Homo sapiens: one gene and its partners. The protein of the gene in region 7 purifies or fractionates together with the protein of the main gene of each other region. This does not show direct contact. Each region holds a gene or a part of one and is shown on either strand. Other genes may lie near its edges.

Evidence for each region.
Region 1: the proteins of DNAJC12 (region 7) and CDK8 purify together in Homo sapiens (affinity purification with mass spectrometry; one large-scale study listed by BioGRID and IntAct). This does not show direct contact.
Region 2: the proteins of DNAJC12 (region 7) and PCDH7 purify together in Homo sapiens (affinity purification with mass spectrometry, with the first as the bait; one large-scale study listed by BioGRID). This does not show direct contact.
Region 3: the proteins of DNAJC12 (region 7) and CAPRIN1 purify together in Homo sapiens (affinity purification with mass spectrometry, with the first as the bait; one large-scale study listed by BioGRID). This does not show direct contact.
Region 4: the proteins of DNAJC12 (region 7) and TUBB6 purify together in Homo sapiens (affinity purification with mass spectrometry, with the first as the bait; one large-scale study listed by BioGRID). This does not show direct contact.
Region 5: the proteins of DNAJC12 (region 7) and FKBP5 purify together in Homo sapiens (affinity purification with mass spectrometry, with the first as the bait; one large-scale study listed by BioGRID). This does not show direct contact.
Region 6: the proteins of DNAJC12 (region 7) and MLLT11 purify together in Homo sapiens (affinity purification with mass spectrometry, with the first as the bait; one large-scale study listed by BioGRID). This does not show direct contact.

What each region holds. Positions count from the first base shown.
Region 1 is NC_000013.11:26,393,629-26,397,128, reverse strand, and holds part of CDK8 (cyclin-dependent kinase 8), read right to left. Parts: intron 845-3,500; coding exon 775-844; intron 1-774.
Region 2 is NC_000004.12:30,919,369-30,922,868, forward strand, and holds part of PCDH7 (protocadherin-7 isoform d precursor), read left to right. Parts: intron 1-784; coding exon 785-1,001; intron 1,002-3,500.
Region 3 is NC_000011.10:34,086,231-34,089,730, reverse strand, and holds part of CAPRIN1 (caprin-1), read right to left. Parts: intron 3,427-3,500; coding exon 3,318-3,426; intron 337-3,317; coding exon 275-336; intron 1-274. UniProt on the Homo sapiens protein: mRNA-binding protein that acts as a regulator of mRNAs transport, translation and/or stability, and which is involved in neurogenesis, synaptic plasticity in neurons and cell proliferation and migration in multiple cell types.
Region 4 is NC_000018.10:12,314,741-12,318,240, forward strand, and holds part of TUBB6 (tubulin beta-6 chain), read left to right. Parts: intron 1-3,500. UniProt on the Homo sapiens protein: Tubulin is the major constituent of microtubules, a cylinder consisting of laterally associated linear protofilaments composed of alpha- and beta-tubulin heterodimers.
Region 5 is NC_000006.12:35,573,916-35,577,415, forward strand, and holds part of FKBP5 (peptidyl-prolyl cis-trans isomerase FKBP5), read right to left. Parts: intron 3,319-3,500; coding exon 3,079-3,318; intron 2,028-3,078; coding exon 1,920-2,027; 3' UTR 1-1,919. UniProt on the Homo sapiens protein: Immunophilin protein with PPIase and co-chaperone activities. Component of unligated steroid receptors heterocomplexes through interaction with heat-shock protein 90 (HSP90).
Region 6 is NC_000001.11:151,063,397-151,066,720, reverse strand, and holds part of MLLT11 (protein AF1q), read right to left. Parts: intron 1-3,324. UniProt on the Homo sapiens protein: Cofactor for the transcription factor TCF7. Involved in regulation of lymphoid development by driving multipotent hematopoietic progenitor cells towards a T cell fate.
Region 7 is NC_000010.11:67,807,189-67,810,688, forward strand, and holds part of DNAJC12 (dnaJ homolog subfamily C member 12), read right to left. Parts: intron 1-3,500. UniProt on the Homo sapiens protein: Probable co-chaperone that participates in the proper folding of biopterin-dependent aromatic amino acid hydroxylases, which include phenylalanine-4-hydroxylase (PAH), tyrosine 3-monooxygenase (TH) and peripheral and neuronal tryptophan hydroxylases (TPH1 and TPH2).

The DNA of each region.
Region 1 (3,500 bases), on a different chromosome or scaffold from region 7:
GCTATATTAGACTTGAGGTTAATTGTACATTGGCTAAAGTCCTTCTGATGAGAATTATTTTGATCATAACCGATATAAAATATATATTGAAAACACTATGAGCATAAAATGAGTAGAATTAAATCAGTTTTCTATTTCATTCAATATCCACAATGGTCACTTTTGAAAGGATACCGATGATTAAATGTAAGACAATTTCATGAATAACAGACACTAAACAGCTTTTTTTTTCACATGAATTATATTTTAACAATTATTTTAAATAACATCTGGGTCAAAAGTTTAATTCAGCCTTACCAATAAGTGTAAAATACTTTTGTCATAGGTATACAAACTAAACTCTCCCAATCCCTGGCTTTGCATTGTAAACAGGTGAAATATCCATTCTTCTCTGTTAAAACCTGCTTAAAATTACTGTAACCTAGATTGGTGAGCAAGTGGCTATTACCAAAGTTTATTTATTTAGATTCTTATTTATTCAGCTGTGATACTTCTCACTAATGTCTAGCTTCCAAAAAGTAGTCAATATGGAAAGACATGAATTTGTTTTATATCCAAATCAGCTGCTAATATTAGTCACTTTTGTATATAATCATTTAAGCATCTTAAGAAATAAAGACTGTCATCATGAAAAATATTTATTAGAGTAAATAAGTAAAATTATTTATTAGAGTAATCTTATATTGAGTATTTTATTATGTTGAATATTCAGTCTTACACTGAGTATTCTGGTAAAGCAAAAATCAACAAGGAGTCTCTTTTTTTCCAACTTACGTATTTCTTCTGAAATCTTTCATTAATGTTGAATGTTCAGGCATCTTTTTTATATCTTCCCAATCTTTATCTGTGAAATACATTGATAAATTTTTATGTTGCCTAAGTTCCTATTCTTGAGAATTTTTAAAAAGGTTATTACCACGTTCATTACATTTCCTATCCGTTCAACCTCCACACAAAAAAGCTGTCTTCAAATAAATGTTCAGCAACAGTAAATATCTTGAAGTGTAAACATAATTCCTTATCCCTTATATAACTTTATATATCTGTTTATATTTTAAATTTTAAACTGCAAACTTTCTGTATGTTTTACTATAAGCTGCCTCAATTTCTGTCACTAGAGAAGAATAAGTTATACATATTTCTATTTATCTTATTAAATGTCCTCTTTCTATTAGTAAAACTGCTTATTTCCCCTTTTCTACCAAATTTCTTGGTTAAGTCAGCAATCAATTTCTTCAATGAGAAATCTAAGATCTTCCCCTCAGTGGCTTTAAACTATACTTCTTTTTATGATACAGCCCTCCTTTCACCTTGTTAAATATATTTCTTTACATAAGCAATCAATGGAAGAAGGGGTAATAACTATTTGCACAATAGGGTAGGATATAATTAGTATATTAATAAGTGGGCTGGTACCTTGGCTAGTCTGGTTAACATTACCCAAAACAACCCCAGCTCCTAAATACGTTAAGTACAAAACGTTTCAGCTACTTTTGCTGGCATCCAAGTTGCTCAAACAATACATGCTACATAATGTGTTCTCTCCAATATCTGCCAATGGGTTTTCCTGAGAGTCTACTAGGTGCAAAGGACTGTCACAGGCAGCTTAACAGCACCTTTAGCTCTTTTTTTTTTTTTTTTGAGACGGAGTTTCGCTCTTGTTAACAGCCCAGGCCGGAGTGCAATGGTGCGATCTCGGCTCACCCCAACCTCTGCCTCCCAGGTTCAAGTGATTCCCCTGCCTCAGCCTCCAGAGTAGCTGGGATTACAGGCATGTAATCCCATGCCTGTAATACATTACAGGCATGTAGCCACCATGCCCAGCTAATTTTGTATTTTTGGTAGAGACGGGGTTTCTCCATGTTGTTCAGGCTGGTCTCAAACTCCCAACCTCAGGTGATCCGCCCACCGCGGCCTCGCAAAACCTTTAGCTTTTAAATGGCCTTTAGAGGCTTGCTTTTCTTTGAACTTACTTGTAAAAATATTTGGTAACTATCCTCCAAAGACATCACATATTGTAAACTAAACATACACTACACTCCTAAATGGAATTTTCTCCTTAACTATTTTCCTTGCTCCAATTTCTGTGTTTTATCAATTTCTCATGCTAGAAATTTTAAGATAATCTTTAGTTTTCCCTTGCTTATACACTTCCTATAAAACATTTCCATCTGCCCTTTTTTCTCCATCCTTATCTTCACTCTACTTTCTGTCTGCAGCACTGCTACAGCTGGTTTCTGATTTCAGTTAGCTCTTTTTAACAGATTTTTACCTACCACCATCTTACTAAATCTTTCTAAAATGCAACATAAAGCATGTCTCTAGTACTCAAGAACTGATGGATTCTCATTCTTTAGCTATCAAATCTAACCTCTGCTGCCTGCTTTCCAAGCTTCCTTATAAACCACCCTAACCTCTGAACCACATATTAAGAGTCACTGATAGACATCTTCACCACATCTACTCCCTCACAGAAGCTATGCCTTTCCCGTGGGCTCAGAAATGGTGGACACATTCAGAAGCAGGAAGAAAACAGAATTCTTCTGTCTCTACTCAAAACCATACCTACTTTTTAAACATTCTACATATAGCAGTACAATGCAAACTCCAAGGGGGCAAAAATCATGTCTGTTACATCATCAATAACTTTTTACTTAAGACAGTGCCTGGCACATGGCAGGTACTCAATAAATATTTACTGAATAAATAAAATTCCCATCACAACAGAAGTCTTCTCCACACTGGTGACCAATTTTGGAGAAAGGCAGTATCTGTGTAGTTATTCTGCATTTACTGATAATTAACACCCTTACAAGGGAATGTAGAATTAAAAGTCCCAGGTATTATCTCTATTAGTCTTGAGTTTATAGTGACCTGAGAAATATTCCTAATAAGAAACACTTTCTACTAAGTACTTGACTAGCCAAAATTTAGGTGTTTTAAACAAATTCTCATTATTCTGGACCTCTGAGCAGTTTTTGGTGATTACCGTTCTGTAATATAACTAGGGATTGAGATACAGTTGGAGAGATCTAATACCAGGGATAGGATACATGTAAACCATCTCTCTGTTGCAAAACAGCAGGCTAACTCACCATAGGGTACTATGACTCTCACCCACATTGTGACTGTTCTAAGAGAAGACTTAAATGCTATTATTCAATATAATGTGATTCTGTATAGTGCCCTAAATAGAAATAAGGTTCAAAATTTATATTTGAATGCCAAATAGTGGCAGTATTATATGTGCTGCCAGAAAAAAATTCCTACTACTGAATTCATTTATAGTTTCTACTGGTAAGAGCTAAAGGTACCTTTTTAATACAGATATTGAACATATTTTATCATTTCAAATACCAAATAACAAAACAAAAAAGTAAAACAAGATGAAACAAAAATACAGTCCTGAAATTCAGGAAACCCATAAATATTTCCATGCCAATATGTAAACTCTACAAATTTTGCTGTTTCTACGGATCTTTGATAAATGCAAGTCAAAA
Region 2 (3,500 bases), on a different chromosome or scaffold from region 7:
ATTGTCAGTAACATAGTAAATTGTGGAGTTCAACTGGATAGTTTCATAAAATTTTTTAAAAACAAATTAAAGGCTGTACATGATTTTACTTTATTGAACGAATCACAAACAGTAATATTAAGAACATACAATTAAACTTTATAGTTTATTTCCTACTCACTGTTTAGGGATACTTTTATCTATTATTGCAATATGACTCTTACAATTTCAAGGTCCATAGGCAATATTTTTATAGGAATGATGTAATAAACATATTTGTGTTTCCTAGCACTGCATCTAAATTCCTATTTGTCAGCTGTACTTTGAACAGTTTAAGTCAACTGCCAACCCATTTGATTTTATAGCTTTGTATGATATGGACAAAGTATTTAAAAATTGAGTCTTCTTACAATGGATTAGTTCAATATTTACTGCCTTCACAAATCACTGACCTTGTTTTTTTAGAGGCCATTTCTGGAAAGCATATCTGAAGTGAATACTATAGAATAGAAAAAGGTTGAATATGTGGAACTAACATATCAGATTTAAATGTATGTTTTAGTGAAATTACTGTTTTTTTATCTCTGTTTCTGAAAGGGAATTTCCAGTTTTTCCATAATAAAATCTAAGCTCTAGACATTGCCTTAGATAATACATAGTTAACTAATGCAGTTTCAACATATCTATTCATTTTGTATTGAATTAGTTGCCAGTAGACCTTAATGTATGTAATTTATGTATTTTTTAAAATAAGATCATTTACAATCTTACATCGTAGTGACATTCAGAATCTTTTCTTTTGCAGCCATTTCGTAGAGTGACGTTTTCTGTTGTGAGTCAGCCTCAGGACCCACATCAGGGGTCACTGCAGAGTTGCTATGACAGCGGGCTGGAGGAGTCAGAAACACCAAGCAGTAAGAGTTCATCAGGGCCAAGACTGGGTGCGCTTCCACTCCCAGAGGACAACTATGAAAGGACCACGCCGGATGGCAGTGTTGGTGAGGCAGAGCATATGGAAAATGGTAGGGGCAAACACAACATCCACACACATAATCACGCTAGTGAGCCGTAATAAGTAGACTCGCGAAGGTCAGTCTAAAACCAAAATAAAATAGCTGACATTAAAACCATTTTATTTTAAGTGATAAATATTTGCTAAAATACAGAAATGCCAAATAAAGGAACATAACTCTGTAGATAAAATTCACCCAAATTGCACCATCATTTTAAAACATCCTGTCAGAAATAAACGCACTTATAAATAAATCAGAACAGGGCCCACTATGAAGGAAGCTAAATAAGTGCAGAATTCCTAAACAATAGTCACCAAGAAAGGTCTTGTCTAATTGTTTTCTTCTATTCATTTTTGTCATGCAACTATTTCTTCAATTGCAGCTGTCCAGTCTTAGTGAAAGGAAATGAAAGAAACATACCTTGCTCTACCTTTTCTTGTCCTAGATGTTTAGAAAAGCATTTTCAAACCTCTCCTTTCCTATGATCACTGAATAGGGTCAAAAGAGAACAGTACTACTTTGTTCTCCATAGTATGCAATAAATGCTATTAGAATTTCCCTCCTATTCAAGTATAAGGTTTTTTTTTATTTTTATGTGAGAGAAAGGAAGGAAAATAAATCATAATACTCCATATTTTTATACTGTTTTGAGGTGATTCTCATAATTACCACAATTGGCCTTGTATACATTTTCTTTTAAGTTATACATTTAGATTGCAAATAGCACTTATAAAACTTTCCACATTTGTTTATATTCCCAGAGATAATTTGGTGATTTATTTTCTGGATTTTGAGTCATAAGTAAATGCCTGAGGAATAGGTTTGTGTCAAATAATGGAATGGTAAAATTCATCCTAACTTCATTATTCTTTCAAATATGAAGAGAGAGATGGTTAAACAGAGAGAAAGGAAAGGAATCACACACATTTTATCCCTAGTAAAACTTGCAGTGGATTTATGTCTTTTGCCATCTCAACCCCCGAGTGACATAAGACGCTCTAACTTTTTGTTATATATCCGTTTCTTTAGTGCTGATATATATGCAAGTAGAGCATATTAATGCAGGAGAAAGACTGATTTTCTTCTGTAAGTTTACCTATGAATATTAAAATCCAATATTAGAATATAATATATTATAAAGGACCCCAAATGAAAGTATTGCTAAATTATATTATGCTAAATAATTATTTATCCACATTGTTCTTGGTTAAGAAAATATGATATCAGGGTCTGATGATTGACGTCCCTCTTGATTAATTTTGCAGAGTTAAAATGGCATTTTGCCTTATGGCTATAAAAGCATGCTTATCTGTGTGTATGGTGGTGTGTGCTTATGTGGATGGGAGTCTGGTGTGGTTTCTAAGAGTTACATTTTTTTTAGTAATTTTTTTAATGGGCATATAATTTTGGTATGAATTGCAATGCTGATGAATATATATTTAAGGCAGATATGTTTAAAATTATTTGGAAAAAGAAATTAAACTAAAAATACTGTAATTACATACATACTATGTAATTACATATGTAATTTGGATGTCAGCTTTATTAAAAAAGGACTTTGTACCCCTGGCATTATAATCATTTTTCAATGTTAGTTTCTGTTTTATGAGTTTATGGGGATTCATCACCTTTAAAATAAGAAATAAGTGATGAATAATTAAAAGATAATTATGTAATTACATGTATGTAGCCACATGTAATTGCATGTATGTAGTCACATGTACTATAGTGTATTACGTTACATATGTGTAACGTGTAATTACGTATGTGTGATATATGTAATATATAATATGTATATAGTACATATAATTACTTATATGTACATATGTATGTAATTACAGTATTTTTAATATAGATAGATGATAAATAGAGCATACCTAGGAAGGCAGGATTAATTTAATTTAGGGGTATTACTACATCTGAGATTACCTGTTCATGAGAACATATAATTTTGTTTGTGTTTTTAAAAGTGCTTATTCTTACTGTAAAGCACAGAATGTACAATTAAATCTTTATTTTTTGGATGTCAGCTTTATTAAAAAAGGACTTTGCACCACTGGCATTATAATCATTTTTTAATGTTAGTTTCTGTTTTATGAGTTTATGGGGATTCATCACCTTTAAAATAAGAAAGAAATGATGAATAATTAAAAGATAATTATATATGACAAACACATATCGGTTACCTTTTAGGAAACACACATGTCATGGAAAACTTAACAGGTGAGCTTGTTAATAAAATATAAAGTATACTGAGAAAGAGTTCCAAAAAACGACTTTTAATTCTTTTTTAGAACCAAGTTTTTAAGGCCTGTCAAAAGCAAGGGTCATGATAATGTAACGGATCTTTCCTGATTTTGTATGTGACCAACACTTGAAAGTCAGAGTTTATATGACCATTTGTCATCTACTGGCTGTGATTCATGTTAGCCTTGATCTATAGGTAATGACAAAATGAGATGCGATGCACTGTGGCTGATCTAAATGTAGCAGTTGACCTTTGAGTAA
Region 3 (3,500 bases), on a different chromosome or scaffold from region 7:
ATTTGCTGAATTCCAACAGAAGACTTGGACACTGATGAAATTCTTATTTTCTTTCATAAGCTAAGAAAGAAACCAAGGAACCAATTAAAACAAAAGTGAAAAAATATTTTTTAATTATTTTTTTAAAATAGAGATGGTGTCTCGCTACACTGCCCAGACTGGTCTTGAACTCCTGACCTCAAGTGATCCTCCCATCTCAGCCTCCTAAAGTACTAGGATTATAGGTACGAGCCACCTAACCTGGCCCTGAAGAAAATAGTTTTATCACTCTTACCTGTGTCGCTTCTGGTTGTACAGGAACTTGATTAGGCTGAGCAAGTCTAGATTCAGAATGAACTGCAAAGGTGACCAAAACATTTTTGTCAAACAAAATTAAATTTTTAGAGAGACGCGTCTAAATACCTTTTATTTCGCTATTAAAGGCTTTTTTTTTTTTTTTTTTTTTTTGCGGGGGGGGGGGGGGGGGGAGTGTCTCACTCTGTCACCCAGGCTGGAGTACAGTGATGTGATCTTAGCTCACTGCAACCTCTGCCTCCCAGGCTCAAGTGATCCTCCCACCTCAGCCTCCCAAGTAGCTGTGACTACAGGTGTGTGCCACCACACTCGGATAATATTTGTATTTTTAGTAGAGACAGGGTTTCGCCATGTTGCCCAGGCTGGTCTCAAACTCCTAGGCTCAAGCAATCTGCCCACCTCAGCCTCCCAAAGTGCTGGGATTATAGGAATGAACCACCATGCCCAGCAATTAAAGGTAAATTTCTATAGCCAAACCATAAATAAACTTTTTAGCAATCATGAAAGTAAATTGGGAAATGCAGATAAAATTTTAGCTTTCAAGTGAGCATTTTGGTTTACCGGCAGTGGTTATTATTTAATAGTTTACTTTCACAATTGGTTTCATCTTGTTTTTTCCAAAAGTAAAGTAAAATGTTAATAGAATGCACTAACAAATAATCAGTGCCATGAAAAAAGACTTTTAAAGCTGTACAATAAAGTGGCATTATTCATACTCTAGACCTCAGACAGATAGTATTCCATTTTGACCTTTTGTTTCTTCTGAAACAGGGTCTCACTGTGTTGCCCAGGCTGGAGTGCAGTGGCGCCATCATAGCTAACTGTAGTCTCAAACTCTGGGCTCAAGAAATCCTCCCACCTTGGCTTCTTGAGTAGCTGGGACTATAGATGCATGCCACCCTGCCAAGCTAACTTTTTTATTTGACTAATTTTTAATTTTTTTGTAGAGGCGAGGTCTATGTTGCTCAGGCTGGTCTCAAACTCCTGGGCTCAAGTGATCCTCCCTCCTCAGCCTCCCAAAGCACTGAGATTACAGGCATGAGCTACCATACCCGGCTCAATATATGTTAACATAACCAACTTTCAATTTCAAGTGTTTCTAGAGAAAAAGAAAATTTAAAATATGTACTTTTCGGCCAGGCACAGTGGCTCATGCTTGTAATCCCAGCACTTTGGGAGGCCGAGGCGGGTGGATCACGAGGTCAAGAGATTGACACCATCCTGGCCAACATGGTGAAACCCCATCTCTACTTAAAATACAAAAATTAGCTGGGTGTAGTGTGGTGTGTGCCTGTACTTTCAGCTACTGGGGAGGCTGAGGCAGGAGAATCCCTTGAACCCGGGAGGCAGGGGTTGCAGCGTGCCGAGCCAAGAATGCGCCACTGCACTCCAGCCTGGCGATAGAGCGAGACTGCGTCTCTAAATAAACAAATAAATAATATATACTTTTTAACAGCCTATATTCAACTCAGCATGCATCTTCTTAACAATTCCCATCACTCTCTCACCTCCCTTCCCAACAATGATTAAACAGATAATCAAAACGACGATCTTTGGTTAGTCATTTAGAAAGTACCCATTTTCACTGGAGAGTCTAATGGACTCAGCATTATGTAAATAACTAAATAGCCTTACAGGTTTTATCAGTGCTATGTATACTGACTTTCACACAACTCCCCAGCTGAGAAAACGACTTACTCTCTTCCTTTGGTAGAGCTCAGAAAATGAACACTAAAAACCATGATTGCTCTCTTGTAGGTGTCACCTTTGATCTGTTTTCTAAAACTCTTGATAGAAATGTGAGAGCCGGGCGCGGTGGCTCACGCCTGTAATCCCAGCACTTTGGGAGGCCGAGGCGGGCGGATCACGAGGTCAGGAGATCGAGACCATCCCGGCTAAAACAGTGAAACCCCGTCTCTACTAAAAATACAAAAAATTAGCCGGGTGTAGTGGCGGGCGCCTGTAGTCCCAGCTACTTGGGAGGCTGAGGCAGGAGAATGGCGTGAACCCGGGAGGCGGAGCTTGCAGTGAGCCGAGATTGCGCCACTGCACTCCAGCCTGGGCGACAGAGCGAGACTCCGTCTCAAAAAAAAAAAAAAAAAAAAAATGTGAGAGATATGAGCTCCCTTTACTTCAGAAAAATCCTAACTACCTTACACCAAATTAACTGTCATTAAACATACTTTTACTCAGCAATTTATTTTATGATATTTAACATCATGCAACATTAAATAGGTTATTTTATTTAGTTCCACTTTTGTGCAACTAAAACTGATGTGTTCTGGGAAAAACCAAGATGACTCACAATCACTAATAGTCCTGGAGAGAAGGTCCACTTAACCCAATGGAAGGCACCAACTGTATTTAGTGCTACTACTTCAAATAATGGTGTAAGTCCAGAAAGAGTCTGAAACTGTCTTGTGGTTTCTCTCTTCCCTTTGCCTCTTACATATTCCCTTACCCACTTCATTGCTGTGTATTTTTTTAAGGTAATAAAATCCAGAAATTCTCCTAGAAAGCTAAAAGCATTCAAAAAAAGGCACCTCTATTATTTTTACTCCTAGATTAATTTTGAAATTTTAAAAGCCAAGCAAAATTTCACTTGTTAAAGTTACAAAAACAGACAAAACTGGTCTATTACAGTTACAAGTACGGAAGTGGTTGCTATCGCTAGGGGTGAGGGTAACTAGTGATTGAAAGGAAACAACGTAGGTTTCTGGGGTACTGGTAATGTTTCATTTCTTAATCTAGCTGCAGGTGTTTTCAGTTTATAAAAACTCATTAAACTTGCGTATATTTTTCTATATCTACATGCCAATGAAAAGTTTAAAAATAAACAGTTATAAACTACATTTTTAATTCAAATCATAGGAACAATAACATTCTTTCTATCAAATTAAAAGACCTAAGAGTCAAAATTAAACAGTCATTAAAATAAACAAAATTTATTTTCACAATCTTTTTAAAACCTGAAAGTACTGGCCTTATATTTCTCTCTCACATAAAAATGTACCACTACTAACCTGGAGGGCAAACCAGCTGGGGCATGTCCATGTTTTGTGTTGGATTCATAGGCTGTGCAGATACAATGGCAGGATCAAGTGTCTGATTTTCAAAATCCAGCATTGAATCCTACAGGTTAAGTTAGGATAGAATAAAGTCAAATAATATAAACACTTAAACTTTCTGTTACAGAGTCTGACTAA
Region 4 (3,500 bases), on a different chromosome or scaffold from region 7:
ACACAGAGTCAACTGTGAGCTCAGCTGTGGCTGAGAATTAATTTTAGCTCTGGGTTTCTGGCAACTAAATCCAAAAAAGGAAGCACAGCAGGTGACACAGCTGACATTGTCTCATAAAGGGGAATATATGCTTTTAATATATTTAAAAGGGAGCTCTCCCCACCATCCTGAGTGATTCGTATTTATTTTTAATTTGTACTTTGCTTTGCTTTTTAAACTTTGCTTTTTTTTTTTAGCAAAAACTAATATAACCACACTCTTAAAAGTTTAAAACTAGAGTTAAAAAAAAATTCTGTATGTTCATCATCTTAGTGTAATTATTGTCAGCACTGAGGTATTTTTTTCACCTTTGTTTCTTTTTGCTGACTCTCATTATTGTAATCATGGTATCATTTATATCTTTTTCCATTGAACATTATATTATAAACCATATTTCACATTTAGTTTCTAAAATCCATAATTTTTAATAGCTCCATAATGTGTAATTAATTCTTTATGCAACTTTATAATGGCCAATAATCAGGAAGCTGTTTCTTTTCAGCTTTTTGCTCTTAAAAGGAATATTGAACATCTTGATTCACTTAAATTTGTCTGTTTCTCACTTTGATTTCAGAATAGATTCTCAAAAAGCAAAATTACTGGGTCAAAGAGTGAAGAGATTTAAGCCCTTTTTACACACTTCCAATTGGATTAATGCCACCAGCAGTGTCTGAGAGCGTAGTTTTTGCTGCACTTTTGCCTGAAATTAAACTTTTCAAAGAAACGTAGCAACTGAATGCTTATTTTATGAGAGACTCAGGGCTTTAAGAACTACTTTATAGGAAATGTAAGAACAGCTCTGAATTTGGCCCTTCTATTCTACACTGACGTAAATTGTCAGCGTAAAACAGAGAAACCTGCACACATATCACGCCAGGACTCACGCATAGAGGAGCCGGAAGGCAGGACATTAAAATGCAACTCAGCGCACGCTGCACTGTTTCCCAGGGGAAGGGTGGTTAGCCGAAACTCATGCCACACCCATTACTGCTTTTTGAGATAAAATAGGAAAAAAGTATATAATTCTACATAGTTGAGTAAGTTCACACTCACACTTGTTACACAGGGCTTCATGTACCAGTGGCCGGTTTTATTTCTTAAATGGGTAGTAGGTGTGTAGAGATTCATATTATTTTTCATATGCTTTTGCATGCCTTAACTCTGTCAAAAAAAAGATATCAGTTGTCTCAAAGGTGTGGTCACGGAAAAGGCAGCTTTCATGGAGAAGGTTTTCAGCAGGTCATGGCTGTCTGGCCCCGGCCCAGTCTGCCCCAGGCCTGGCAGCAACTGAGGGACCCAACCCAGTCTGGATGGGTGCCCCGAGGAGGCCTCACCCACCAGCAGTCAACGCAGTGCAGCCAGGACCTGGCCAGGTCTCAAGAGAGAGTCGAAGCCATGAACTGATCTTTATGACATGAGTGCATCACAAACTATTGAAGTGGTGAGAAGCTAGTTTCTCACAGCTGCCACTTTAGCAATTGTGAGTTTTCTTTGGTTTATTTGAATTGAACATTGGGAGAGTGTAAGGTCTTTCTAGCTGTTGACAAATGGGATCACGAAGATTAAGACAAATTAAGACAGACCTATGGTGCCCATTTAGTTATCTAATTGTCCCTGTAAGCCTTCAAAAATGTTAGAAATGACCTTTGGCACATAAAAACTGTCCCCGAAATTGCTTCTTGCATCTTTGCTTCATCTGACTTGCAACCCTATTTTTGATTCAGAATGTTTTAAGTTTTCAACAGGTTGTACTAACATGATATGTCTTTAATAGGAATTTTAGCAAGTTGACACCATTTTGAGTTAAGAATTGTGACTTGTTTAAATGAATATGCTTATTTGTTAAAATAACATATTATGGAGAATGGAGAAGTATCCAGAATGTATAAACATTCTATATTGTTTAGCTAAATAGTTTTTAAGTCGTTCTCCAGTAAAAGAGGCAGAATTGTCTGTGAACTGGAGATGATCCATCCTCACTGGCTTTATACCATATTGTTCCAGTTAGAGTTGGTAAATTACAATAAACCAGTGTCATTCCATTTCCAAATAGAGTTTGAAATGATTTAGGAAACACTCACTTACATTAGTAGTGTATACTTTTAAAAGTGAAAGTTACCTGTAATTCCAGCACTTTGGGAGGCGCAGACAGGCAGATCATCTGAGGTCAGGAGTTCGAGACCAGCCTGGCCAACATGGTGAAACCCTGTCTCTCCTGAAAATACAAAAATTAGCCAGGCGTGATGAGTGCCTGTAATCCCAGCTACTCGGGAGGCTGAGGCAGGAGAATCACTGGAACCTGAGAGGCGGAGGTTGCAGTGAGCCGAGATTGAGCCATTGCACTGCAGCCTGGGTGATGGAGTGAGACCCTGTCAAAAAAAAAAAAAAAAAGAAAACTTCCCAGTTGGGCAGTGGCTAATGCCTGTAATCCCAACACTTTGGGAGGCTGAGGCAAGTAGATCACTTGAGCCCAGGAGTTGAAGGTCAGCCTGGGCAACATAGTAAGACCCTCTGTACAAAAAGTTTTTTTAAATTAGCTAGGCGTGGTGGTGTGCACCTGGGGTCCCAGCTATTCAGGAGGCTGAGGTGGGAGGATCACTTGAGCTAGGGAGGTTGAGGCTGAGGCTGCAGTGAGCGGTGTTTGCGCCACTGCACTCCAGCCTGGGCGACAGAGCAAGACCCTGTCTCAAAAAAAAGAAAAGAAAAACTTCTGTAATGAATTGCTGGTTGCATAGCAGTCATACCTACTCTATTGTTGGAAAGTTTTGTGGGAAAAGAATGAAGCACCAGAAAGGTAAACGTTCTTCCAGCCTCTTTCTGTATTTCTAACTTTTTCTTCCAGATTCAGGGCTAGAAGAGGGGGCAGGAGTGCACAGACCCTTGACACTTATTCCATCACCCATTGTGAGCTTGAAACCAGAGGGGGGACTCAGAGAAAACCCTGGGGACCTGTTGCAGCCCCACTGCCAAAAAGCTTAGAGTTGGCAGCCTCCTGCTAACTGTCTGGAGTCACTGACTAACATCACACCGTATCAGTACAGAAGATGTTCAGTTCACAACTCCCAAATATTTAACTGGAACATCTGTTGCTATGAGACAGTGGCAAAATATTTTTCAGAAGTCACCAGCTTCCTCCTTTCATCAAGAGCACAGAAAACTTCATGGCTATTCATGCTATAAATATTGAGGAAGCTGGGTAAATGGTGTGAGCTGCAGAGGGAGTCAAGTTCAGCATCTCCGTCCACTTACAGCTAGCTCAGGTCTGATTGATTGGGGTTCTATGTTTGCCAAAAGCCACCTACTATTTTCAGTTGTTGGTTTCTGCTATTTTAATGAAATAGGTCCCAGGCTATTTTGACAGCTGCCCTGGGTCTTTCCTTTGTAAAATGTGACAGTTCTAGCACCGAGTGTGGACCAGCCCCGAGCTTGTTCCTCCCAATACCTATGTTGTAGTTTTGCCA
Region 5 (3,500 bases), on a different chromosome or scaffold from region 7:
TGGCATCATCTGAGTCTTGGAATAGCTTTCTTGTTTGTTATCTGCAAAAAGCTAGGTGGCCTTTTTAGTATCAAATTTCAATCTTGGCCTCACTGGAACCATGCTCTACAGAGCTTTCCCAACAGTTTAGCAAGTAAGCAAAATCAGCTTTTGCTCTTCATATTTCGTAGGTGAGACTGGGGCTTTTAAAAGAAATATTTCATAAAAAAGACAAAAGCATAAATGAGAAATTAGAGGGATTTTAGTTATCATTAAAGGAAAAAACTCACAAATTGATCCCATTTGTTCCATGGGGAAGAAAAGTATTATAAAAGGAAATAACTTGATTTTTAGGTTTGAAGGGGGTCCCAATCTAATAATAAAAGTCTTTTGATAAAACCATCATAAAAATAAAAACTAATTTAAAATATAACTGCCAGTGTTTTTTAGGATTTAAAAAGGTGAGATGTTCCAGGTTTAAGCAAATGGTTCCTTGGGTTGCCAAATGCATTCCCATGAGTGTTTCTTAGGCTGAGGGAATAGAGAGCCATGCTCAATCTGTTTACCCGTAAGGACTGAAATTCAACTACATGTACACATTTAAGACTTGCCCTAGTTCAATGGTCAGCTCAAGTACTGGAGATTTAGGCTACTGGCTGTGTACCGGCATGGGAAGCTGTCTTCAACTCTTTCACAACTCACGCCAGAACAGAGAAGCTTGACAGGGCAGGAAAAGCGAGCAACTGCGTGTCAAACCTGCAGGTGAAACCCCTAGTGTAGAAGAGCAACTATTTATTTGTCAACCCTACAGATTTTGTTTTTAAAAATTAAGCTTAGTACTAAAAAGTCAAAATTTTTTTGCATGATAGAGGAGTGTAAATAAAGTTCCATAAACCAGTATACATATGCTTATGAGCCAATAATCTTAAAAAGACAAAAAAAGCTGCATGGATCCTAAATGACTATGTAAATAGATCCACTCCAGGTCAAAAATATTGTAAGCACAAGTCTTAAATTCTTAATAGCAAGGATTAGAATGAAAGAAGAAGCTGAGCAGTAGCAATGCTGGGAGGAAGTACTGTGTATTGAATATTATTCCCTAAAAGGAATAGAGGAGGGGAGAAAAAGCACAATTCTGATTGCTCTTTTCACATTTCAGTATCTCAGAACTTCATCGAAAATAGGAAAAGCTAATCCAGAAACTCTCATCTGCTCATTATCATTGCTGAAGGGTGTTTTAGGAATGACAGAATTACTCCCCCAGGGACAGGCTGTGTGTGGTAGAAAGCCACTCTCACAAGGAGGCTGGCTGAGGAGGGGGACTTTGGGAGGAGGCTAAGTCAGCAAGCAAGTGGCCTCTGAGGTTCTGGCTTTCACGTCTGTGACACTGCTGTGGAACTGGGGAGACATGAGACCCCTCTACTGTGGGTTCTGTTGGTTAAAAATGCAACAGACTACATTTATAGCACTTCAGTCATTTAAAAAACAAAAGCTTATCCTCCTTCCCCTACCCTACCCAACTGTAGGAAAGGAGAAATTCATGAAGCATTTTTTTTTTAAAGGTTTCTGCAGTGCTATGAAAGTTCAAAGGTAAAACCTAACAGCCCCACATTGTTAGGATGATCTCCAGGGACCCTGAATTGGATACTTGAAGGTTGATAGAAACTGAAATGAGCTGGACTTAAGCTGCTGGCTCACTCCCTCCACACCACAGTCATTTCTGTTTGTTCCACCTGGAGTGGTCCCGTGCCACCCCTCAGTGAACCCTCCGGGCAGCAGCAGGGGGGCTGTTTTTGGGAAGCTACTGGTTTTGCCATTTGCTTCCAGAATCACATAGACTATAACAAACTTTACATTAAACACTGTTCTGTCCTGAGTTGGGGGAAAGCCCATTGAGGAGGGGCCGAGTTCACTGGGACTCTTCCCTCCTTGGCGTGGCGTCATACGTGGCCCTCAGGTTTCTCTTCTTCCATTGCTTGACTGTCTGTTCCTTTTTCATTAGTGACCCCTTCTGAAGTCTTCTTGCCCATTGCTTTATTGGCCTCTTCCTAAGGAAGAAATAAGCAATCAAGAAGGTTAGAGAATAAAGAAGTGAAATAATTCCTGGCTCCTCCAGACTGTGTATCAGGTCCCAAACACGAGGTATTGCAATGATTTTCTCTAGGATATCTAGCTGGGTAGGTCAGGGCTGTGCTACCAATAGTTAGAGTGGGAGCTTCACCTTTCTTTGGTTGACACATGGGACAGCTGTGGGATAATGAAGTCTGGGCATTCCTGGAGACTGGGGACAGGACCAGAATGCCAACTATGCTGTAGGGAGGCCGCCCTCTCTGCAGACAGACCTCTCCTGCCACATTTTTCAGGCTGGCTGCCGACCCTCAAGATAACAGGTGTGATGATGGGGCTCCTATAACATCCCATTTCCTGGGAAAATCGTAAGTCTTACTTGAAAAAAAAATCCTGATGGGTTTACAATTTTTCAAAAATGACAAAAGGGCTGGGCATGGTGGCTCATGTCTATAATCCCAGCACTTTGGGAGACCAAAGCAGGAGGAACCCTTGAAGCCAGGGGTTCGAGACCAGCCTAGACAACAAAGTGAAACCCTATCTTTACAAAAAATTTTAAAAAATTAGCCCAGTGTGGTAGTGTGCTTGTCCTAGCTACTCAGGAGGCTGAGGTGGGAGGATCACTTGATCCAGAGAAGTCAAGGCTGCAGTGAGCCATGTTAGCACGACTGCATTACAGTCTGGGTGACAGAGTGAGACTCTGACTCGGGCAGGGGCCCGGGGGGCGGGCGGGGGGAGTTGGTGCAAAATTGCTGTTTTTGCCATTGAAAGTAATGGTAAAAACCACAATTACTTTTGAACCAATCTAATACATCTGAAGGGAATTTAGTTTTCTCATCTCTCATGACGTGTGCCTTTGGTGACTGGAACTGCCCTACTCGACCTTTGGATCCAAAGCAGCCTCAGATTAGATTGGAAATCGTTTTCCCTGCTCTTGAGCCTCTTGGGTTGTTTAGCTGTTCCTGTCCCCTAAAATCAAAGGGGCATGGTCAGGCTCTTGATCCACCTGCAGTCATCAGGCTCTGCACACACCTTGGCATCCTGCTCTGCAAACTTCTTGAACATGTTGGCGTATATCCTGCGGTCCCGCTCGTTGTGCTCCTTGGCCTTTTTCTGGCACATGGAGATCTGCAGTCTTGCAGCCTTATTCTGGGGGTTTACTTCCAGCACTTTCTCAAAGTCACCCTTGGCTGACTCAAACTCGTTCATGAGCAGCTGGGCTTCACCCCTCCTATACAAGCCTTTCTCATTGGCACTGTCCAGTCCAAGGGCCTAGGAATAGATGGTCTATATTTTAGAAAGGACGAATTTTAATAAATTCAGTAAACAGCTTACCAAAGTTCTCTTGCCAAAGGAGATGGAAAAAGTGTATTTAAAAAAATGGGGCTCAAGATAATTACATACTACTGATCAAAATTTACTACCCAAATTATTTTCTGCATTTAATGCAATTT
Region 6 (3,324 bases), on a different chromosome or scaffold from region 7:
GATCTCCTGACCTCGTGATCTGCCTGCTTCGGCCTCCCAAAGTGCTGGGATTACAGGTGTGAGCCACCGCGCCCGGCCGAATTTCTACTATTTTCTAAACTTCCCATCTTGGAATGACTTATTTACCATCTATTGCATCAAATTGATCTTGGGTCTGATTTTCAAGGCCTTCCAAAATCTAGCCCATTCTTCCCAGCAGTGGTATATCCTCTGTTACAGTTATGCTCATTCCTGTCTTGCTTAACTCTCTCCATTCTCCACCTTAAAATACTTTCCGCATTTCAGCCAGGTGTGGTGGCTCATGCCTGTGATCTCAGAAGTTTGGGAGGCAGAGTGGGTGGATCACTTGAGGCCAGGAGTTTGAGACCAGCCTGTCCAACATGGGGAAACCCTGCCTCTACTAAAAATACAAAATGTTAGCCAGGCATGGTGGTTTGTGCCTGTGGTCCCAGCTACTAGGGAGGCTGAGGCACGAGAATTGCTGGAATCCAGCAGGGTGAGGTTGCAGTGAGCCTTCCAACCTGGGCAACAGAGCAAGATTCTGTCTTAAAAAAAAGACTTTCCACATTTCAGGACTCCATTCAAGAGCTCAGTGGCTCACACCTGTATTCCCAGCACTTTGGGAGGCTAAGGCAGGCGGATGACTTGAGACTAGGAGTTCCAGACCTGCCTGGGCAACATGGCAAAACTCCGTCTACAAAAAATACAAAAAATTAGCTGGGCCTGGTGGTGCACGCCTGTAGTCCCAGCTACTTGGGAGGCTGAGTGGGAGAATCACTTGAGCCTAGGAAGCAGAGGTTCCAGTGGGCTGAGATTGTGCCGCTGCACTCCAGCCTGGGGAATAGAGTGAGACCCTGTCTCAAAAAACAAAAAGACAAAACAAAACAAACAAAAAACTCCAAGTCTATAGAGGAACCCCCGTTCCCCTAGCCCAAACTCCTATTATACTTAAAAATACTTGACTTCCTCCTGACTTTGGTTTAATAGCTCATGGTATGTGTGAAAAGACCTTCCGTGACTTTTCTGCTTTCTATTTTCCTTCTTGCCTTCTAAATCCTACTATAAACTCACCTCTTGCAGATGACTTCCTTAAACTTTTACTCAGCTTCATCTACTCTATTTCCTCCAGCATCTCCCCCAACACCCTGTAGAGTTTTACCTAACTCCATCAGTTTGGGATTACAGATCACTGTTAATGTATTTTATGTATAGGGATGGCCTTATTGCCTTCTGAATGGGGAAAAGCAAAGGGCAGTAGAGAGCAAGCTAGAATCTGAGAAAAACAAAAAGCTCTTTGACAAATTGACCCCTTGTCTTAAAACCAGAGTATGAATAAAAAACTGCTCAAATAGTCCCTGAGGGTTTGGCAGAGCTATCTTGCAATTTAAAAAGCTAAAGCAAATGTTATGAAATATTAACTCAGAAGGCCTAAAACCTCTATGTCATTGACCCAGAGACATGTACACAGGGTACCAAATACATTCAAGAAACACATGCATGCAAGCATATGTGGCATTAAAATCAAGTCAAGAACATAAAATAAGACTACACAGAAAATTGAAGTTAAAGTGCTATTCACTAATGTAAATAGTAATGAAATTTTTGATTTAATATAGTATGGATTTAATTATCAAATACTCCAAATTTTGCAAAAGACCCCTTTTTTGGCTAGCTTCCCCTTCCCCTCCACAAATGCTCTCCACCCCTACTTCATCTATCTTTACATCTATCATTATCTTAAACGGTATCATTTACTTAAAGGGTTGACAGTGCCTTGTACCACAATATATATTCAATAAATGCTTCCCATTATCCTTCATTTTAAATTATCCAGGTATTTTAGGCAAAGGCAATATCTAATTATCACTCTGTTCTTAGAGATACATGATTAGCAAATATGTAGATTAGAAAGATACACTCTCTCGGAGCCACACAGACACGCCCAAACATCCTTTGTCCAGACCCTTTGTGGGCATCCAAGGCCTACTCAACAGGGCCTTGCTGTGTCATGCTGCCACCATGGGGAAAGGGGGAGGACAAGGTGGTGGTAGAGGGGAGCAGAAGCTCTCTGGCATCTCACCATGCGTGCCTCAGTCAGAGCTTGGATTTTCCTATTAGCATTCCCTCACCAGTTCCACTGAATTGCAAATAATCATTCTTTTCCAGAATCTGTCCCCATACCTAGGAGTTTCCCCAAGGGTAAAGACCAATCTACTTTCTCTGTACACAAGTGGTGGGCTTTGTACACAAAGCCATTCAAGGCTGCTGATTAACTTTCCCTCACTATTTAATTAATACCTTGCCATTCCCTTATATTAGCCCACAGGTAAGCCTTAACAATCCATTTCTCTCTAGCCTACCTCTCCTTCAGAACAAAACCTAGGTGCTAAAAGAACTTTCCTAGCCAGGTGCAGTGGCTTACGCCTATAATCCCAGCACTTTGGGAGGCCGAGGCAGGCAGATCAGGAGGTGAGGAGTTCAAGACCAGCCCAACCAACATGGTGAAATCCTGTCTCTATTAAAAATACAAAATTAGCCAGGCGAGGTGGCGCATGCCTGTAATCCCAGTTATTTGGGAGGCTGAGGCAGGAAAATTGCTTGAACCTGGGAGGTGGAGGTTGCAGTGAGCCGAGATCTCGCCATTGCACTCCAGCCTGGGCAACAAGAGCGAAACTCCATCTCAAAAAAAGTAATAATAAATAAATAAATAAATAACTTTCCTATGCTGTAACAGGGATCTCTTTTCTCTGATCCCAGTGCTCGAGTATACTGATGATAATGAGAGCAAATGGATTGGAAATCCATTTGGATTTAAAGTAAAGTTCAGATTGGAAGAAGGTATTTTAACAGAATCAGATACTCTTCCATGCGTTAATGGATCTATCACTTTCTCTACTCATTCTACCCAAGCCCTGCCTGATATTTTAGGACTATTAGAGCTGCCTACAGCCTCCACCCTGCTACTTACTAGCCAAGGGTCAAGAAGCATTAGTTGTGGTCGGGCGTGGTGGCTTACGCCTGTAATCCCAGCACTTTGGGAGGCCGAGGCGGGTGGATCACGAGGTCAGGAGATCGAGACCATCCTGGCTAACACGGTGAAACCCCGTCTCTACTAAAAGTACAAATATTAAGCCGGGCGCGGTGGTGGGCGCCTGTAGTCCCAGCTACTTGGGAGGCTGAGGCAGGAGAATGGCGCGAACCTGGGAGGCGGAGCTTGCGGTGAGCTGAGATAGCGCCACTGCACTCCAGCCTGGGCGAAAGAGCAAGACTCCGTCTCAATAATAATAATAATAAATAAATAAAAATTAAAAAAAGAAGCATTAG
Region 7 (3,500 bases):
AGGCAGAGGTTGCAGTGAGCTGGTATCGCACCACTGCACTCCAGCCTGGGTGACAGAGCGAGATTCTGTCTCAAAAAAAAAAAGAAAATATTCAATTTTAAAAATTAGGCGAAGTTTCGATGCAAAAACATACAAGGTGGGAGATTCCTGGTGCCAACAATATGTGTGGGAAGGGAATAGTTACAGAGTAAACACTTCAAAACCATTTGCTAAATTGTAAATGCAAGTATTACCCATTTCTCTGTAGATTTTATTTCAAAATAAAAACGTTAATTTTTAAAAGAGGCAATGCCTCAGCTGGTATTAAAAAAAAAAATGACTTTTGTTTGGTTGGTTTAGGTTTGTTGTTTTGGTTTGGTTTTTGCATATGCACAAAATAAAAGAGGCTGCCAGTGACTTCCTCTGCAGAGGGAAAAGGATATTAGGAAGGTTAGTGAAAAACAAGGAATAAGACATTCAAGAATTCAGGGCCCAGAGAGCTGAAAATGTAAACTGTGAGCTTCACAAGCCAGCAAAGTGGCCTGTACGTGATGTATTGATCTCTGTGCCTCAGTACTTCTCTCTTGAAATCAAAGTACCTGTGGTCTGTCTTAGATAGGTTAGGATTAATGTCTAATCCACAGTAAATGCTTTAAAGGTCCTCAGTGAAAAGATGTTCTGAAATAGTAGTCTTATCCATCTCCTTTGTGAGTAAATCAGAATAAAATATGTTATCAGACTCCCATATCTGCTGATCCTCATTAAAGAAATATACAGAAGAAATATCCAAACTGTATCTAACCTTAGATACAAGTGCTTCTCACGCTTTGTAGTTCAATCAAAGGACTAACATCAGAGTGATGCTAAGCAGCCTGGTTTGCTGGGACACAGTTAGATAGTCTGCAAATCACTCATTTCTGTGTTCACAAGCATATTTCTCAACTCCACAAGGGTATTAGTTGCACAGAACAACATTTAACATCAAGCGAACTAGTCTATTATGCAGCTACTCATTTCAGTAGAATCAGCATCAATAAAAGATATCAAATGACAGCAATTGATACAGACTAAGAGAGAGACTAGAAAGGGGAGAGTCTACAGCAAGATAATAAAATGCACAAGACAGAAAATCTATATATGCATGGAAGGAACTAACGCTAAACAGACAGCAAGCCTAGGTGCAAAGGCCACTAATCTTAACAGTCTGTGAAATTTCTATGTTGTTATTCTGCCTTCACAATTAACTTGTTTACTAGCTTTCTTGAACGAGTTGGTTTTTTTTCTCTAGGAAGTCATTTTCTTACATTCTAGACCTTGGTCAATACTAGGAAATAGTGCTCGTCTCAGCAGCACATATACCAAAATTGGAATGATACAAAGAAAATGATCATGGTCCCTGTGCAAAGACAACAGGCACGTTCGCGAAGCATTCCATTAAAACACACACACACACACACAAACACACAGGGAAATAAAAAATTTTGTTTACATGCCAGTAAACATTGGCACAACATTTTTTTAAATCCATGGACTCAGATGAGCCATAGATCAGCTGAATAGCTATACAAAATTGACTGGTTATTATTATCCTGGATCAGTGATCACCATGAGTGGATTTTTCACTTATCAGGGTGATTTCTGACCTGCTTTTGGATAACATCCAATTAAGACAGATTGCCTTTTGAACCAGCAGAAGGTGTTGAATTGCATACTGTTTCCCATCTGGCTGGTGAAACTGTGGCCATGTGGGCATAGTGTAGGAAGCTTTCTGGATAGGTAGTCTATGGCCAGTTGAACCCACCCCAAAGACACCTTGCCCAGCTGGGAACCCAGAAACAATCAGCAGACAAATAGGTCCACACGAGGCTGACCCAACAAGCCCTCCCAGAGGCAATCAATTTGTCAAATGATCAATTCACCAAAAATGTGTTTCTATTAACTCTTTATAAAATTTACAGCAATTGAAGTGGCATAAGATAGTTTTAACGGCTTATGAGAATTTTTTTTAGCCATTCATTTTGACTGTGCCTTTGCTGTGGCTTCTTTTTCCCATAGGCATCCTAAATCCATGCTGCCATATATTTTGGTGCTAGAGGGAGAGCCATCCACACCCTGGGTCTCTTTGGGTAAAACCATTTAGCATGACAAAGATACATTTCCCTAAGATTCTCTGGAATCCTGGGATAACTCTTCAGGTTATCCCAGGATCCCAAAGGCCTGAATTACTGAATCCTCACTCCAAACCTTTTTTTTCAAACCAATACTACATGTCTAAATTTAAATCGCCAACATATTCATTGACCTGGGTGAGGTCTTAAAATATTTTTACCAATTAAACTAGCAGGAGGAACTTCTAGAAAACAAAAAGAAATAAATAAGTAGGTAGTAAAGTGACAGACTTAGTGTAGGGAAAAAATACCAGTTCAGTTGCATCACTCCTGGATGATAGAAATGTGGTGGATATATACACCATGGAATATTACTCAGCCCTAAAAAAGAGCAAAATAATATCTTTTGCAGCAACTTAGATGGACCTGGAGGCCATTGTTCTAAGTGAAGTAACTTAGGAATGGAAAACCAAATATTGTATGTTCTCCATTATAAATGGGAGCTAAGCTACGGATACACAAAAGCATACAGAGTGGTATAATATAATGGACTTTGGAGACTCAAAGTGGGAGGCTGGGACGGAGAGTGAAGGATAAAAAACTACATAATGGGTACAATGTATACTACTCAGGTGATGGGTGCGCTAAAATTTCAGACTTCACCACCATACAATTCATCCATGTGTCTAAAAACCACTTGTATTAGTCCATTTCACACTGCTGTAAAGAACTACCTGAGACTCAGTAATTTATGACGAAAAGAGGTTTAATTGACTCACAGTTCCTCAGGCTTAACAGAAAGCATGACTGGGAGGCCTCAGGAAACTTACAATCATGGCGGAAGGTGAAGGGGAAGAAAGGGCCTTCTTCTCATGGTGGCAGGAAAGAGAGAGAAGGTAGAACTGCCACATACTTTTAAACCATCAGATCTCATGAGAACTCACTATCATGAGAAAAGCAAGGGGGAAATCTGCCCCCATGATCCAATCACCTCCCATCAGGACCCTCATCCAATTCAACATGAGATTTGGGCAGGACACAAATCCAAACCATATCAACACTTGTACCCCAAAAGCTATTGAAAATTTTTTGAAGTTTTTAATTTAAAAAAATGTGGCACCCCTGAGGCTGTGGCTCGTTTGAGGAATTCTCCCAAAGGAAATTCCCAAGATATGATCCTGTGTGTGATGCTACAAAAGTACACCGTGATTTGTCCTGCCTTGTGGGTATAGGGACTAATAATGTTCCCAAACAATGCTTTTCCGTTCCAGAGGGATTATACTATTTAAACAAAAAGCAGAAACACAGGGTTGATGGTGTGAAGGAAAGGGAATTTATGAGATTTAACAATCTAGCCAGGTGCGATGGCTCATGCCTGCAATCCCAGCACTTTGGGAGGCCGAGGTCTTTTAT